Regions from separate parts of the Homo sapiens genome. Here region 2 is linked to region 1. Evidence: fine-mapped expression QTL. A gene starts in region 1. The other region holds a variant in brackets. All regions are shown on one strand. Distances are from middle to middle. Region 1 holds the start of GMFG (glia maturation factor gamma). Region 2 holds the start of PAF1 (PAF1 component of Paf1/RNA polymerase II complex).

What was found.
Region 2: its variant is fine-mapped to the expression of GMFG in whole blood (TOPMed, PIP above 0.99).

Annotation. Positions count from the first base shown.
Region 1 is chr19:39,331,938-39,340,259 of GRCh38, forward strand. GMFG (glia maturation factor gamma) reads right to left here and starts at 4,106. Exons shown (of 7, transcript NM_004877.4): 1 at 4,037-4,106; 2 at 3,498-3,594; 3 at 3,324-3,373; 4 at 1,140-1,189. The coding sequence starts at 4,039.
Region 2 is chr19:39,383,894-39,392,214 of GRCh38, forward strand. SAMD4B (sterile alpha motif domain containing 4B) reads left to right here. Exons shown (of 14, transcript NM_001384574.2): 14 at 1-1,807. It overlaps PAF1 (PAF1 component of Paf1/RNA polymerase II complex), which reads right to left and starts at 7,213. Exons shown (of 14, transcript NM_019088.4): 1 at 6,925-7,213; 2 at 6,367-6,396; 3 at 6,176-6,268; 4 at 5,747-5,868; 5 at 5,587-5,653; 6 at 5,389-5,490; 7 at 5,200-5,305; 8 at 5,054-5,122; 9 at 4,869-4,972; 10 at 4,667-4,783; 11 at 4,446-4,574; 12 at 2,801-2,906; 13 at 2,589-2,679; 14 at 1,736-2,510. The coding sequence starts at 6,971. The coding sequence ends at 2,098. It overlaps MED29 (mediator complex subunit 29), which reads left to right and starts at 7,485. Exons shown (of 4, transcript NM_017592.4): 1 at 7,485-7,745. The coding sequence starts at 7,530. RefSeq lists a silencer at 5,871-6,002 and an enhancer at 7,540-7,829. The variant A/G (reference allele first, on the strand shown) is at 5,130.

The DNA of each region.
Region 1 (8,322 bases):
TTGCAGCCTCAGCTTCCTGAACTCAACTGACCCCCGACATCAGCCTCCCAAGTAGCTGGAACCACAGGCACATGCCACCATGCCTGGCTAATTTTTTTTTTTTTTAATAGAGACAAGGTCCTCCACCAGGCGCGGTGGCTCACGCCTGTAATCCCAGCACTTTGGGAGGCCGAAGCAGGGATCACCTGAGGTTAGGAGTTCGAGACCAGCCTGGCCAACATGTCTCTACTAAAAATACAAAAATTATCCAGACATGGTGGTGGGCCCCTGTAATCCCAGCTACTCAGGAGGCTGAGGCCAGAGAATCGCTTGAACCCAGGAGGCGGAGGTTGCAGTGAGTCAAGATCGCGCCACTGCACTCCAACCTGGGCAACAGAGCGAGACTCTGTCTCTAACAAAAAAAAAAAAAAAATAGAGACAAGGTCTTGCTATGTTGCCCAGGCTAGTCTCGAACTCCTGGCCTCAGGTGATCCTCCCGCCTCAGGCTCCCAAAGGGCTGAGATTACAGGTGGGAGTCATAGTACCTGGCCAAAATTTCATTTTTAAAAAATGATGCCAGCGTAATGTTGAAACAAAAACTCAACAAAGTTTGTACAAAAAAAAAAAAAAGACTCTTAAACCGGTATCATAAATAATCGGTATAAAATTCTGCAATAAAATATTGCTATACAAACAAAAAGTTCTAGAGTATGAACTCTTGGCCTCAAACACAGAGATTCTTTTTTTTTTTTTTTTTTTTGAGATAGAGTCTCGCTGTGTCACCCAGGCTGGAGTGCAGTGGTGTGATCTCAGCTCACTGCAGCCTCTGCCTGCCAGGTTCAAGCGATTCTCGTGCCTCAGCCTCCCAAGTAGCTGGGATTACAGTCACATGCCACCACGCCCAGTTAATTTTTGTATTTTTAGTAGAGACGGGATTTCACCATGTTGGTCAGGCTAGTCTTGAACTCCTGACCTCAAGTGATCCACCCTCCTTGACCTCCCAAAGTGCTGGGATTACAGGGATGAGCCACCTCACTCGGCCAAACACAGAGATTCAAAGTCCATGAATAGGGCTGGAACTCCAGCAGTCCCTTAGCCTATACCTCCAACATCACCCCTCCCCTCATGGCCTGATCCAACCCTTTCTTCCCCCAGGATACCTGGGCTGTCTCTCCGGCAACTCCATTTTGAGCTCCTCTGGGGAAATGTTCTGAGGCAAGAAAACAGAAGAAAAGACAAAGAATGAGGCAGGGCGCAGTGGCTCACACCTGTAATCCCAGCACTTTGGGAGGCCGAGGCAGGCGGATCACAAGGTCAGGAAATCATTCAGACCATCCTGGCTAACAGGGTGAAACCCGTCTCTACTAAAAATACAGAAAATTAGCCAGGCATGGTGGCATGCACCTGTAGTCCCAGCTACTCGAGAGGCTGAGGCAGGAGAATTGCTTGAATCCGGGATGCAGAGGTTGCAGTGAGCCGAGATCGCGCCACTGCACTCCAGCCTGGGAGACAGAGTGAGACTCCATTTCCAACAAAAAAATTAGCCAGGCGTGTTCAGGAGGCTGAGGCAGGAGAATTGCTTGAACCCGGGAGGCGGAGGTTGCAGTGAATCAAGATTGTGCCATAGCACTCCAGCCTGAGCAAAAAAGATCGAAACTCCGTCTCAAAAAAAAAAAAAAAAAAAAGAATGACCACCTTTAGGTGAGCACTTACCATGTGCCAAGGCATCGTTCTATGAAACACACATGGATTAATTCATGCAACTATCCCGTAAGTCTGTGGGGTAGGTCCCATCATTATGCCCACTATACAGCTGAGAAAACTGAGGCCCAGAGGTGTTAAGGCATTTGCCCAAGATTGCACAGATAGAAAGCAGCAGAGTTGAGATTTGAATCTGGGTTCGAATCATAACTGCTTCACTATACTGCCTTTCAGAGGGCCTGAGAGAGCCCCAGCCCCCAGTCTCCATGGATTCCCTTATAAATCCTTATCGCAACACTAGAGAAATAAGCCTTATTATCATTCTTGTTATTGATAAAGACAGTGAGGCCACCAGGGGGGTGAGGTCTACCCCCTTTTTTTTTTTTGTAGAGATGGAGTCTTTTTTTTTTTTTTTTTTTTTTTGAGACAGAGTCTGTCGCCCAGGCTGGAGTGCAGTGGCACGATCTTGGCTCACTGCAAGCTCCGCCTCCGGGGTTCACGCCATTCTCCTGCCTCAGCCTCCCGAGTAGCTGGGACTACAGGCACCCGCCACCACACCCAGCTAATTTTTTGAATTTTTAGTAGAGACGGGGTTTCACCATGTTAGCCAGGATGGTCTCGATCTCCTGACCTTGTGATCCGCCCGCCTCAGCCTCCCAAAGTGCTGAGATTACAGGCGTGAGCCACGGCACCCAGCCGAGATGGGGTCTTGCTTTGTTGCCCAGGTTGGTCTCAAAACTCCCAGCCTCAAGCAACCCTCCCACCTCAGCCTCCTGTGTAGCTGAGATCACAGGTGCACACCACTGTGCTTGGCTAATTTTTGTATTTTTAGTAGAGTTAGGGTGTTACCATGTTGCCCAGGCTGGTCTTAAACTCCTGGGCTCAAGTGATCCTCCTGCCTCAGCCTCCCAAAGCGCTGGGATTACAGGCATGAGCCACCATGCCTGGCTAGCTTTTTAACTTATATGGAAACTCTTTCATTTAAATGCCAATAAAGCATTATTATCATCATTATTAAGATCATCATCACCTTATTGAGCACATACTAAGTGCCAGGCCTTGTTCTAAACCCATTACAAGAATTAAATCACTGGATGTAAAAACAAGCCTATGAGATAAGTACTATTCTCCCCATTTCACAGATGAGGAAATAGAGACACAAACAGGCAAAGTCTCTTGCTGGGGGTCATGAGTGAGCTAGAACTTGATCTCCAGGGTTTTTTGTTTTTTTGTTTTTTGTTTTTGTTTTTGAGACAGAGTCTTGCTCTGTGGTTCAGACTGAAGTGTAGTGGCACAATCTCGGCTCACTACAGCCTCCATCTCCCGGGTTCCAGCGATTCTCCTGCCTCGGCCTCCCAAGTAGCTGTGATTACAGGTGCCCACCACCATGCCTAGCTAACTTTTTATATTTTTAGTACAGATGGGGTTTCACCATGTTTGCCAGGCTGGTCTTGAACTCCCAACCTCAGGTGATCCACCTGCCTCGGCCTCCCAAAGTGCTGGGATTACAGGCATGAGCCACTGTGCTCGGCCAATCTCCAGGTCTTTCTACCCCCATGCCAGGCTCTTCATATCAGTTCCAACCACTTGGTTCTCCCAGTCTCACCCTGTACCTCCCAGTCCCAATCACCCCAGCCCATCACCTGAAATTCTTCCTCCAGCACCACCATCTGCCGGTCTTTGTCCACCTTCACTGGGGAGGGGTGGCACACAGGGATTAGACACTCCCCCTGATCCATGGGGGACACAAGCCCAGCCCTCCCTATCTGCCCTCACCACCGCCCTCCCATCCTTCTGTGGGGGAAGATGTCACTCACTTATGATGGCTGCATTGTCTGTCTCTTTTCGGAAGCGGAATTTCCTCAGCTTTTCTGTTAGCTCTGGGTCTACCTCGCACACCACCAGGGAGTCAGACTGCCGGAGGGACCCAGGAAGAGCTGAAATGGCCTGGCCTCAGCCCTCACCCCTTCCCCAAACCTGTTTCTCCATCCACTAATGAAGAGGAGCATCGCGCCGGCCCATCTGATGCCTTTGTGAACATTGAGAAAAGGCACCCTTCCCACAGAGTAGATACCCCTCACCAGGGCACTCAGCTTGGGGGGCGGAGCAGAGGCTGGGTTCCCGCCTTCTCCACGGGGACTCTTGGGGGACACTCAAGGAGGTGCAGAGATCCACTTCCTGAGCCTAAACCCAGAGCCACTGTCTCTCTGTTCTTCCAGCCGGGCTGTTCACCACAGTTGGGCCCCCTTCCCGGCCCGTGACCTCCATCCCATAGCCTGACCTTCGCCCAGGTGTCCTCCAAGCCCCAGCCCCAACCCCAGCCCCAGCTCTTCCCATAGAACCCCTGGCCCCTGACCATGATTGTTCTGTCCACAGGCCTCTTCTTTTCTTAGTTCCGCTGTCTTCTAGGCGTGGGGACCGGGGCTGTAGGGGGGCGGGCTGTGCAGTAGGAGGAAGGTTTCATCCAACACCACATCCTGTTTATGCCCTTTCTGGGACAACTGTCACAGAGGGCTCCTCCCCCTCCTTCCTTCCCCTCATCTGCCAGGACCTGTCAGGAAATCGCTCAGACCAGGGTTCCAAAGCTTCCTTGCTGTGTGACCCTAGCTAAGTAACTTCACCCCTCTGATTTGAGATTGTGGTGAGGATATAAATAGCTTCACATCGGCCGGGCATGGTGGCTCACACCTGTAATGCCAGCACTTTGGGAGGCCGAGGCGGGCGGATCACCTGAGGTCAGGAGTTGGAGACCAGCCTGACCAACATGGCAAAACCCCATCTCTACTAAAAATACAAAATATTAGCCTGGCATGGTGGTGCACGCCTGTGATCCCAGCTACTCGGGAGTCTGAGGCACAAGAATTGCTTGAATCCGAGCAGCAGAGGTTGCAGTGAGCCAAGATCACATCATTGCACTCTATCCCAGGCAATAAAAATACAAATAAATAAAAATAAATAAATAAATAGCTTCACATAGCTGCCAGCATGGCAGACACAATAGGTACTAAAAACGAACTATTTTGCTCCTCCCCTCCTCCAGGTGGCCTTCCTAGATTTACCCCCATCTGGGATATTTGAATTGCAGGGCTGGAAAAGGGGAGTTTAGTCTTTTGCTGGTCAGACTGACGCCCATTATGTCAATGGCAAAATGGGGACCAGAGGGGCAACCCCACAGTGCCTGGGTAATGGTGACTTTTTTCCTGCACTTTTCCAACCTCACTAGCCTTGCAATGACCTATGAGGCCCTACAACAAGGGAGTTCAATCCCGTCAGACCGGTACCCAATTTTTTTTTTTTGAGACAGGGTCTCACTCTGTCGCCCAGGCTGGAGTGCAGTGGTGCGATCTCAGCTCACTGCAACCTCCGCCTCCCAGGTTCAAGCCATTCTCCGGCCTCAGCCTCCCAAGTAGCTGGGACTACAGGCACGTGCCACTACGCCCGGCTAATTTTTGTATTTTTAGTAGAGATGGGGTTTCACCATGTTGGCCATGTTGGTCTCGAACTCCTGACCTCAAATGATCCACCTGCCTCAGCCTCCGAAAGTGCTGGGATTCCAGGTGTGAGCCACTGTGAGCCACCATGCCCGGCTATTTTTTTTATTGAGTATTTTTGCACTGCCCCCTTTTCCCATCCCGAAATAAAATTCCTAGATAATATAACCTACTTACACACATAAATTCAAAAAAAAATCAATATAATGTCCTGACTGTCATATAAAGAAGAAATAAAAGGAATGTAGTTCACACAAAAACCATATGTATTTCAGTGAGAAGATAAAAGCAAACAAAAGACAATTTCCACAGGGTCCTAGGCCAACTGTGACTGGCCCACTTCCCTCCATGGTGGGCAAACCCCGGACCCTACACTGGACTCTACCCCTTCACCTACATCTCTGCAGCTGTCCTCTCTCTCCCTCTTGTCTCACCAACGTCCCCATGCCTCCTGGATCTTTCTCCTTAGCCTCCATGCAGTGTTACTTCTTCCATCTTAATTTTTTTCTTTTCTTTTTTTCTTTTATTTTGAGACAGGGTCTCATTCTGTTACCCAGGCTGGAGTGCAGCGGTGTAATCATGGCTCACTGCAGTCTCCAACTCCTGGGCTCAAGCCACCTTCCCACCTTGGCCTCCTAGGTAGCTGGGACTATAGGCACGCAACACCATGCCTGGCCAATTTTACTTTTGATTTTTATAGAGACAGGATCTCGCTATGTGGCCCAGGCTGGCCTCAAACTCCTGGCCTCAAGCGATCCTCCTGCCTCAGCCTCCTGGTGTGCAGGGATTACAGGCGTGAGTCACTGTGTCTGGCCTCTTCCATCTTAAAAACATAAAACTGTATCTCCTGTCCAGCTGCTGCTCACTCATTTCCTTCCCTTTTCTGCAAGATTTCTCAAAAGAGGCCGGGCGTGGTGGCTCATGCCTGTAATCCCAGCACTTTGGGAGGCCAAGGCGGGTGGATCACGAGGTCAGGAGATCGAGACCATCCTGGCTAACAAGGTGAAACCCCGTCTCTACTAAAAATACAAAAAATTAGCCGGGCGTGGTGGCAGGTGCCTGTAGTCCCAGTTACTCAGGAGGATGAGGCAGGAGAATGGCGTGAACCCAGGAGGCGGAGCTTGCAGTGAGCCAAGATTGCGCCACTGCACTCTAGCCTGGGTGACAGAGTGAGACTCCTTCTCAAAAAAAAAAAAAAGATTTCTCAAAAGAATAATCTACATTGCTGCCTCCAATTTCTCCTCCCAGTTTTCTCTTCTGCCTTCTCCAATCAGCCTTTCACCTGTATTCCTCTCAGCTGACATGCCCTTGTCAAGGTCACCCATGCACTCCACGGTGCTGGATCTAATGGTCAATTCTCACTCCTCCTCAGCCACATCTGACACAGCCCATCACTCCCTGTTCCCTGAAACATCGTCTTCATGACACCACACTTGCCTGGTTTTCTTTTTTTCTTTTCTTTTTTTTTTTTTTTGAGACAGGGGTCTCGCTCTGTCACCCAGGCTGGAGTACAGTGGCACCATCTCAGCTCACCGCAACCTCCGCCTCCTGGGTTCAAGCGATTCTCTCACTTCAGCCTCCCAAGTAGCTGGGATTACAGGCGTGAGCCACCACACCCGGCTAATTTTTTTTTTTTTTTCTTGAGATGGAGTGTCTCTCTGTCACCCAGGCTGGAGTGCAGTGGCACAATCTCGGCTCACTGCAACCTCCACCTCCCAGGTTCAAGCAGTTCTCCTGCCTCAGCCTCATGAGTAGCTGGGATTACAGGTGTGCGCCACCACAACCAGCTAATTTTTGTATTTCTAGTAGAGACGGGGTTTCACCATGTTGGTCAGGCTAGTCTCGAACTCCTGACCTCGTGATCAGCCCACCTCAGCTTCCCAAAGTGCTGGGATTACAGGTGTGAGCCACCGCGCCTAGCCATATTTTTGTATTTTTAGTAGAGACAGGGTTTTACCATGTTGGCCAGGCTGGTCTCAAACCCTCCCATGGGCCAGACACAGTGGCTCATGCCTGTAATCCCAGCACTTTGGGAGGCCAAGGCAGGAGAATTGCTTGAGACCAGGAGTTCAAGACCAGCCTGGGCAACATAGCAAGACCTTGTCTCTACAAAAAAATTTTAAAAGTAGCCGGGCATGGTGGCATGTGTCTGTAATCCCAGGTACCAGCTACTTGGGAGGCTGAGGTTGGGAGGATCACTTGAGCCCAGGAGTTTGAGGCTGCAGTGAGCTAGGATCACACCACTGCACTCCAGCCCAGGTGACAGAGTAAGATCCTATCTCTAAAAACCAAACAGCAGGCCAGGCGCAGTGGCTCACGCCTGTAATCCCAACACTTTGGGAGGCCGAGGCAGGCAGATCACTTGAGTCCAGGAGTTCAAGACCAGCCTGGGCAACATGGTGAAACCCCATCTCTACTAAAAATACAAAACTTAGCCAGGTTTGATGGCATACGGCTGTAGTTCCAGCTACTCCAGAGGCTGAGGCAGGAGAATCACTTGAACCCAGGAGGCAGGGGTTGCAGTGAGCCGAGGTTGCAGTGAGCCGCGATCGCACCACTACAATCCAGTCTGGGCAACAGAGTGAGACCCTGCCCCCCCCCCCCACACACACACACACACACACACACACACACACCAACAATGACTAAAATACTAAGTTATCTGTCACCACCCCTACCCCATTGCCTCTTGGACCTTGTCCTTCACTGCCCTCTTTTGCTCACTCCACTCCAGCAATGCTGGCCCCTTTGTGGTTCTGTGAATGATCCTACTACATGGCCTTTGCACTTGCTGTTTTCTCTTTCTGGAACCCACTTTCTCCTTCATTCCTTCAGATTTCTGTTTCAGTCTCACCTAATGAAAGAGGCCTTTCCCCATGTAAATTAATTCTGGCTGCATTACTCCATTCCCTTAGCTGCTTTCTTGTTATTTATTTGTTTATTTATTTAGAGACATAGTCTCGCTCTGTCACCTGGGCTAGAGTGCAATGGCAAATCTCGGCTTATTGCAACCTCCGACTCCTGGGTTCAAGTGATTCTCCTGCCTCACCCTCCTGAGTAGCTGGAACTACAGGCACGCATCACTATGCCCAGTTAATTTTTGGCATTTTTAGTAGAGACAGGGTTTTGCCACTTTGGCCAGGCTGGTCTC
Region 2 (8,321 bases), 52 kb after region 1:
AAACTGACCACTACCTTGTGGAGCCTGCTCAGAAACATTTGACATTTGGGGTGACGCGCAGGGCAGAGAACCTGCCCTCCAGAATGTTATTGAGAGGAGCTGGGGAGAAGGAAGGGGAGCAAGGAGAGGAAGCTCTCTCTCCTCTCCCTGCTTCCCCTTCACCATTCCCCACATTCTGCAAGGACAGGAGCCACCTTCCTCTCTCTCACCTCCCCTGGCCCTGTTCACCAGAGGTTCTCTATGATTAATTTCTTAGGCCTATTTAAGATACATATTTATATAGTTCTTAACGGTTTTTCTCTGATCATTTCCTCTCATTTTTAGAATCCCCAGGTCTCTCTCAGCCAAGACAGTGGCAGGGAGAGCCTGAACTTTATGAGGGGAGAGGGCAGAGCCCCCTCCTCCAGACCCTCAAGCTCTAACCCATTTTCCTCCAGCCCTGGCTACCCGGATGAAGAGGTTGGAGGTGGGCAGCCAGGGTAGCCAGTGAGGTCAGGAAGTCTGTTGCCTTAACGTCCCCTTCCCCACGAACACACACCCTTCTCCGCTCCCAGGTCTGGTTGGTGAGACTTGGGAGTCAGGAATAAGGGAAAGGGGATTGTTTGGTTTTTGGGTTTTTCCCTAAGCCCCTCCCTTTTCTTTCAGCCTTTTTCCTTCCCCCATTATGTCATGACCTCACTTAAGTGGAACACTATATCATAACCCAGAGATTCGTCCCAGCCCCAGAGTCCGACAGACTGTCTGGTCCCTATTCCTAATGAGGGGTTGTGTTGGGGCCCAGGTGGAGGGAGGGGATTTGGGGGTTCAGACTGCGGGGAAGCCAGGGTCTCCCTCTTCAACGCCCTCCTCCCCCTCAACCCACCTTCCCAACTGGGACATTCTCAAGCTTTTCACACCGAAAAGGAAAAAAAATGTTATTTTTAGATACATTTTATGAATAACTTTTGTTATGAATATGGCTGGTAACCATTGTGTATGTTATTAAAGATACAAAATGTTGGGAAAAAAACAAAAAAAACAAAAAAAAAAAAAATTTTAAAACCACCACCCTCCCTGCACTATCACCCCATTCCCCAGACCTTCTTGCCCCCGCCCTCCTGGTCTGTGGACTTCCCTCTGCTCTGAGCCCAGGGAGGGGGAAGAAGCCAGGGGGTAGGGTGGCCCTGGGAACCTGGCTCTGGGTCCCCACTTCCTCTCCCAGTGCCGGGCTGGGTGGGGTGTCAGGTTTATTTATGTACCTCTTGCACACTCATCAACCTATGCAAGTCCCCCACCCCGGCCCTCCATGTTTCTGTGCCTTTGCTCATCCCCTCAATCTCCCAGGGCTTCTCCAGTCCCCCTCCCACTAGCTGCAGGAAGTGGGATGGATGGGCCACCTCGTTTGGAATCAGCAGGGTGTCCCTCTCATGGGACCCTCCCCTCTCCCCAGCCTGTCCTGTCTTGTTCACTCTCCATCAGGGTGAGCTGACTGTGCCTGGCACTGGGAGGTGGTGAGGGACACCGTCTCACACACACAGGGAGGCAAGAGCTGCCCCCCACCCCACCTGACAGCAGAGTGTGCAGGACGCAGGCGGCCCCACTCTGATGGGCAGGACCCTGACCCTCTCCCGCTCCAGCCCCCTCCCCAGGCCCTCCTCCATGATTTCACCCTCCCTACCCACTTCTGTCCCCGGCCCCACTGGCAGAATCAGCTTTGAGTAACTGTACAGTTTTTCTCGCTGTTGGAGAAGACTTATTTGTTGGAGTTTCACTTGTTTAATGGTCTGGGCTTATTTTGGAAAAAAAAAAAACAAACAAAAAAAACGAATTCTGACCTTCGTTGTGCTACATTTTGTGGGAAACCATTGGCCCTGCCTCTGGCCTGTGTTTCTAAGCCTCAAGCCAAGATCCTTGAGCACCTGGGGGTTGCGGGAGGTATGTGCTGGGCTGAATGACATCATAGGGGCTGGGAGGGGAAGTAAAGAGAAGTTGACTTTATTAACAGCAAAGGTTTGGGGGTGGGGAACAAACAAGTGAAAGGCTCACAAACAGACCACTAGAAAAGTGCTTTGCTGCTCACAATAATGGTGTCTGAACCAGCCCTGAATGCCCTGGGACTCAGTCACTGTCACTATCAGCTTCACTGGAATCAGAAGCTGCAGCTTCACTGCCATCCTCCTGGGCCGAGTGCTCGCTGCCACTGGGGAAGGGACTGGCGCTGCGGCTGTGGCTCCGGCTCCGCTGGCCACCCCCATTGCTGCCGCTGTCTGAATCATTGTCACTGCCACCTTGGGCCTGTCCTCTGTCCTCATCATCAGAGTCGGCATCGTCCTCAGAATCAGCATCACTGCCAAAGATCTCCTCTTTGTCACGGGCAGCCCGGGCCTCATCCTCGCTGCTCTCGTCCTCACCACTGCCACTCTTGTCACTGGCCTCGTCCCTGTCACCTTCCTCCCGTTCACTCTCGCTGCCCGAGTGCTCATCTTCACTGCCCTCCTTCTCACTGCTGCTGCCCTTCTCCTGCTCCTCATCTGGAAGGGAGTGGAGAGAGATGAAACCCACTTTTCCACCCTCCCAGGGCTCCCAGAGTCTGGCCTGTCCAGATTTACCTGAGCCCCCAGCTTCTTTCTCTTCTGTCTCCATCTCCTCTTCCTCTTCCTCCTCCGGTTCGTGGTTTTCTAGCTGGGCCTTCCGTGCCTCCTGGAAGCAGCAAGATTGGAATGAGGGGAAGGAGGGTGTTCTGCTGGGTTTTTGTCCCCCTCCTCACCTACAACCACCACCCTCCCTGCCATGGGTGCCCTGAGCCAGTGGTGCTTGTTACCTGAGCTTCCAGTTCCTTCTCATTCATGTCCCGATGTTTGACCACAAGCAGGGCGTTGGTGCCTGACTGAACCCCAGCCTTGGCCCGGCGCTTACTAAGGCGGACCCTGCAGGGGGTGAATTTGGGAGAGAGAAGTGGAAGATGCAGTTAAAGACACACCTCCCACTTCCCCGCCCCCCAGTGAGGGGTCTGGTCTGACTTGGTTCCCCATCAATACTTAGAGTAAATGGGAATAAATACAGATTGAATAAGGGCAGCTAAGCTCAAGGTATTGAGGGCAGGGGAAAGGAAGGATGGCTCCCATGGCACCAGTTTGGTTGCCCTACACTGTGTGTGTGTGTTATACGGTGTATTTACATAAATACGGGCATGGGCCATTTAACAGGGACACATTCTGAGATATACATCATGTGAACATCATACAGTACTCTTACACAAACGTACATAGTATAGCCTACTACATACCTAGGCTGTAATGGTGTAGCCTATTGCTCCTAGGCTACAAGGTTGTACAGCATGTGACTGTACTGAATACTGCAGGCAATTGTAATACAATAGTAAGTATTTGTGTATCTAAACATAGAAAAGGTATAGTAAAGATACGGTATTCTATCTTAAGGGACCACCATAAGCAGTCCATTGTTGACTGAAACATGCAGTGCATTACTGTATGTGTCAGTTAGTTACCAACACTTTGAGAAACCAGGAGATGTCAAATCATTTGGATTTGGGGCTTTTGGAAGATAGGAATTTCTGGCCCCACAGCACAGCAACAGTGGGCTGGAAGTGAATAGTGCCCTCCATGGTTGCCCAGAACTCCAGGTCACTCAGATGCTACCAGCCACTGCTCTTTTACATTTCCTGCCTGGCCTATGGGGTCACAGTTCTTGTAATCTCTGCTTTAAACAGAAACTCAAGACTTCCCAACTCTACACCAGAGGTGCTGGCATAGCAGTAAACTTTGAGCCATAAGGGAAGAGTTTTGGAGTCACATTTTTGAACATGGGTTTAAGCATTTCATTTAAAACATTCATGCTAATTTTATATATTACTCCATACTTTGGCAATGTTTACTTTCACATGAAGTCTGTTACTAATACTGGGAAACTTGGCCCTCTGCCTTGCGCAAAGGCTCTAAATGTCTCCTGCATTAAGATATTCTGGCTGGGCGTGGTGGCTCACACCTGTAATCCCAGCACTTTGGGAGGCCGAGGCAGGCAGATCACCTGAGGTCAGGAGTTCAAGACCAGCCTGGCCAGCATGGTGAAACCCCATCTCTATTAAAAATACAAAAAAAATTAGCTGGCCATGCTGGCACACGCCTGTGATGCCAGCTACTCAGGAGGCTGAGGCAGGAGAATCACTTGAACCCAGGAAGCGGAGGTTGCAGTGGGCTGAGATCACACCACTGCACTCTGGCCTGGGCAACAGAGCGAGACTCCATCTCAAAAAAAAAGATTTTTTTTCTGGCTCCTCCTGTTAGAACCAAGTCCAGCTCATGTGCATGACCAGACATCTGCTGCTCTTGTTTACCAATGCATATGACAAATTCTTAGGTACAAATGACCTCCAAGGTGGCTCTTGCATGCCCCAGGGTCTTAAGAAGCACAGATCCAGGCTAATCAGATAGGAGTGTGCTGAGTACCTGGTTTCCAACTCATTGTAGTAAACCCCGTCACCCTCTCGGAAGATGAAGAAGTAGTTTTCCTCATAGCCCTTGCTAGCTTTGTTCTTCACGTTCCAGTTGTACTCCCGAGCAATTTTGTAGTCATACCTGAAGATGAGGGCACAGGTTCAGCCCCATTTCTTCCCTATCCCAATCCCCAAAACTTCCCAATCCCCAAAACTTAACCGCAACCCACGCACACATCATCTGGTGCATAGTCCATCTCCTCCTCCTGGTCCCGCTTTCGTTTCTTCAACGTCTCTTCTACAGGCAGGAAATAGGCCACAAACTGGTTCCCTTCCTCATCCATCATGCCCCTGGTTGGGGGAAAAGGAGTAGCAATGAAGTGTGAGGACAAGAGGCAGCAAGGAGCAGGCCAAGGTGGACAGCAGGACCACCTACCTAATCATGGCCTGAGACATCATCTCCAACGCAGCTGCACCACTCGTGTCCTTGGGGGCTGGGTCTGAGTCAAAGATCACCTGAGCACATGGATTGATCCACATCTAGGGAGATGGAGGCACTGGGGTTAGATGGGAACAGGCACAAATAGGCTGTCCCTTTCTACCTCCCACCTTGGGCCTGACCTTAAAGTCTGGGAAGACAGGCATGACCTCCACCGGTGTGACTCGGGGTTTGCTGTAATGCTGTGAGATCTGGTGG[A/G]ACAAAAACAAGGTGAGGAGGAGCTCTGCAGCCGCACCCTTGCCTCTCCCCATCCCAGTCCCTCAATTACTGATTTCTGGGCATCCTCAAAAGTCTTCTCAATGGCTGTGATCTGGCTATCCCTGTCTTTGTATATTTCTTCCTCGGTAAACTGCTGCTTCACAGAAACCCCAATCCTAGGAATGAAGAAAAAGGTCCTTAGGGGCCACTGGACACACCTAATATCTCCACCTTCCCTCTCTTCCTGTTAGTAACTTACTTGACCTCAGGCTTCTCATTGGAGATGCCATAACGGTTGAACTCAGTGGAGATGTACTCTGTCTTTCGCATCCATGGCACCACCTTCGCGTGCTGCTGGGATCTGGGGTGGGAAATCAGGTATCTCAGGACCCCACTGCCCTCCTGCTTGTAGGGCCCACCTGAGCCAGTCTCCAGTACCCATTTGCTACCCACTCACCTCTTGGAGCTGGTGGGGGCCTGAATCTCCTCTTCCAAAAGTTTCTCATCAGCTGGATCTAGAAGAACTAGAGGAGAGCGGGGGGCAGGAGGACCATGAGGGAGGCCCAGGCCTGAGCCTTTGCTGACCTAGAGCAGACCCTCCCTGTCTCCCCACACACCATTGGGGTCGATGCGGTAGGTGTCAGGATTGATGAGATCGATGGTGACCCCCAGGTCTGGCTCAGTCAGGAGGTCATGTTTGTGCTGTTTCTCCAAGGAAGTGGCTTTGTACTGGACGAACCTGGGTGGGGAAACACCTATTGTGGTGTTTGGATTCCAGCTTCACCCCTCACAGCCCTGCTTCCCAGAGGCGGAGCTTCTCTGGGGAGGAACTCAGAATGAAGTGTCCCCCATGGCAGAGTCTGAAAGCTGGCTCCCCAGTGGGAAGGGACTTGGACACTGCTTGCTCCATTAACAATTGAGCAGCTACTACTATGTGCTAGGGTAGGTACTGTGCTAGGCCCTGAGCAGACAGCAGCCAACGAGACAAGCAGTCCCTGCCTTCAAGGAACTCATACCTGAGTAGTTTTCCCATTCCTTAGTCTCACCTGTTCTGGTCGAAGGGGTAGGTGATGAACTTGGGGTCGAAGGGGATATCAGGGAGGCTATTGCAGTACTTGACTCGGCAGACCACTCCAGACCTAGGAACATTAGTGGCTCAAAAGTGGGCCCCCGCTGCCCCACCTCTGCTCCCAGCCCCACTGCCCCACCGCTCCTGGGAAAGCACAGTGGGGCTCACCTCTCAGGCAGAGTCCGGTGGGAATTGGGCCTAGTGGAGAAGAAAGAAACAGTGATAGGTGGAGAGGACGGGATTGACAGGAGAATGAAAAAGGCTTCCCCAACCTTTCAAAAGGTAGGAGGGGTGACAAATGCTGGTTTCTTTGGGTGGTGGTGTGGGGAGTGTCCAAATGCTTTAATGGAAGGAGACAAATGTTCAATTTATTTAGGAAGAAATGCCCCCAAAAGCTTTAATGAACAAGGCCAAGTGCTCAATCCCTTTTGCAGGAGATGGCTTCAAGTGCTTTAATAAAGAACCATGTACTCAATCGTCTTCGGAAGAGGGGTCTCCAAACGGTTGACTGGAGGGATCCCTTCTGGAGGGAGTCTCCAAAAGCCTAATCCCTGAACTGCACGGCGGGGAGGAGGGGAACACCTGAATCTCAGAAGGAACCCGCCCCCTTCGTCAAAGGTGAGCGCTTCATGACGTCACGGGCAGACCTGGGGGCTGGTGACGTTGTTCAGCAGAAACCCTCTCCCGATCCCCCGCCTTGCTGCAACAGAAAAGCGTGGCGCCTACCTGTGGCCATCCTCCCGCTGGGCCTGGGTCTGGATGGTGGGCGCCATAGCGACGAGGCGACGGCAGCCCGGACGGGGTCCTAGCGGGACCGAAGGGGGACGCAGAGGGGCGTGCCGACTTCAGGGGACGCCTGATCCGAGGAAGGCCCAGCTTGGCGCCGCTCCCCGCGGAAAGTGGGTTGAGATGAGGTGGGCGGGCGAGAAGAGCTCCAGCGAGACTCAGGTGAACGCGCAGGCAGCACCGGGGACGGACTCGAAGCTCCGGTTCCACCAACTGCCGCCAAGACGCTGAGGACCCAACGGGTCTCCTCAGGCCGCGACGCCTTCGGGGAAATGAAGTCCGGCTCGGAACCACACACGGATTGGCGAGCGTCTGGGTGAAGGGCGGAGCGAGGGAGAGAGGTGCTTCTGTGATTGGTGGAGAGATATCTCAGTCTGGACGCAGATTTGAGAGTGACGTAACGTTGGGGCACCTCCTTCCCCTCCATTGGCTTAATTGCCTAGGGGGCGGGACTAACTAGCAAACGGGGACTAGAAATAGGGATGCTGAAAAGCAACGGGGAGAGACGCAGTCGTAACGCACTTCCGGCGGTCTACGCGAGGAAGATGGCTGCATCCCAGCAGCAAGCTTCAGCGGCTTCCTCAGCTGCTGGTGTATCGGGTCCTAGTTCGGCTGGCGGCCCGGGTCCCCAGCAGCAGCCGCAACCGCCAGCACAACTGGTGGGCCCTGCCCAGAGCGGCCTCCTGCAGCAACAGCAACAGGACTTCGATCCTGTGCAGCGTTATAAGATGCTCATCCCGCAGCTGAAGGAGAGTCTACAGGTGATTGGCCTTAAGCAGCGAGAAGCAAACTGGATTTGGTAGTCTAGAGGGGCAGGCCGAGGGCCAGGTTAGTCGGAGAGAGCGCTAAGCAGAAAGAGGAATAGAACCTGCTGTTTTGGCCTGGCTGGTGCACGCCTGTGTTCCCAGCACTTTGGGAGGCCGAGGCGGGCGGATCACTTGAGGTCAGGAGTTCAAGACCAGCCTGGTGAAACCTCGTCTCTACTAAAAATACAAAAATTAGCCGGGCATGGTGGCGCGCGCCTGTAATTACAGCTACTCGGGAAGCTGAGGCAGGAGAATCGCTTGAACCCAGGAGGCGGAGGTTGCAGTGAGCCGACATCGTGCCATTGCACTCCAGCCTGGGCAACAGAGCGAGACTCCGTCAAAAAAATAAATAAATAAATAAATAAAACTGTTGTTTTCTGCGAGACCTAAGCGAAGCTCGGCAGAGATGGGATCAGCGCTGATGCTGAGGCTGGGACTGGCCGGAGCTTGAGTGAGGGGTTGTTTAAAGGAGAAACTGGGCTCTGGTCGTTAAAGCCTGAGGAGAGTACTGGCTTATACGGAGATTCTGCC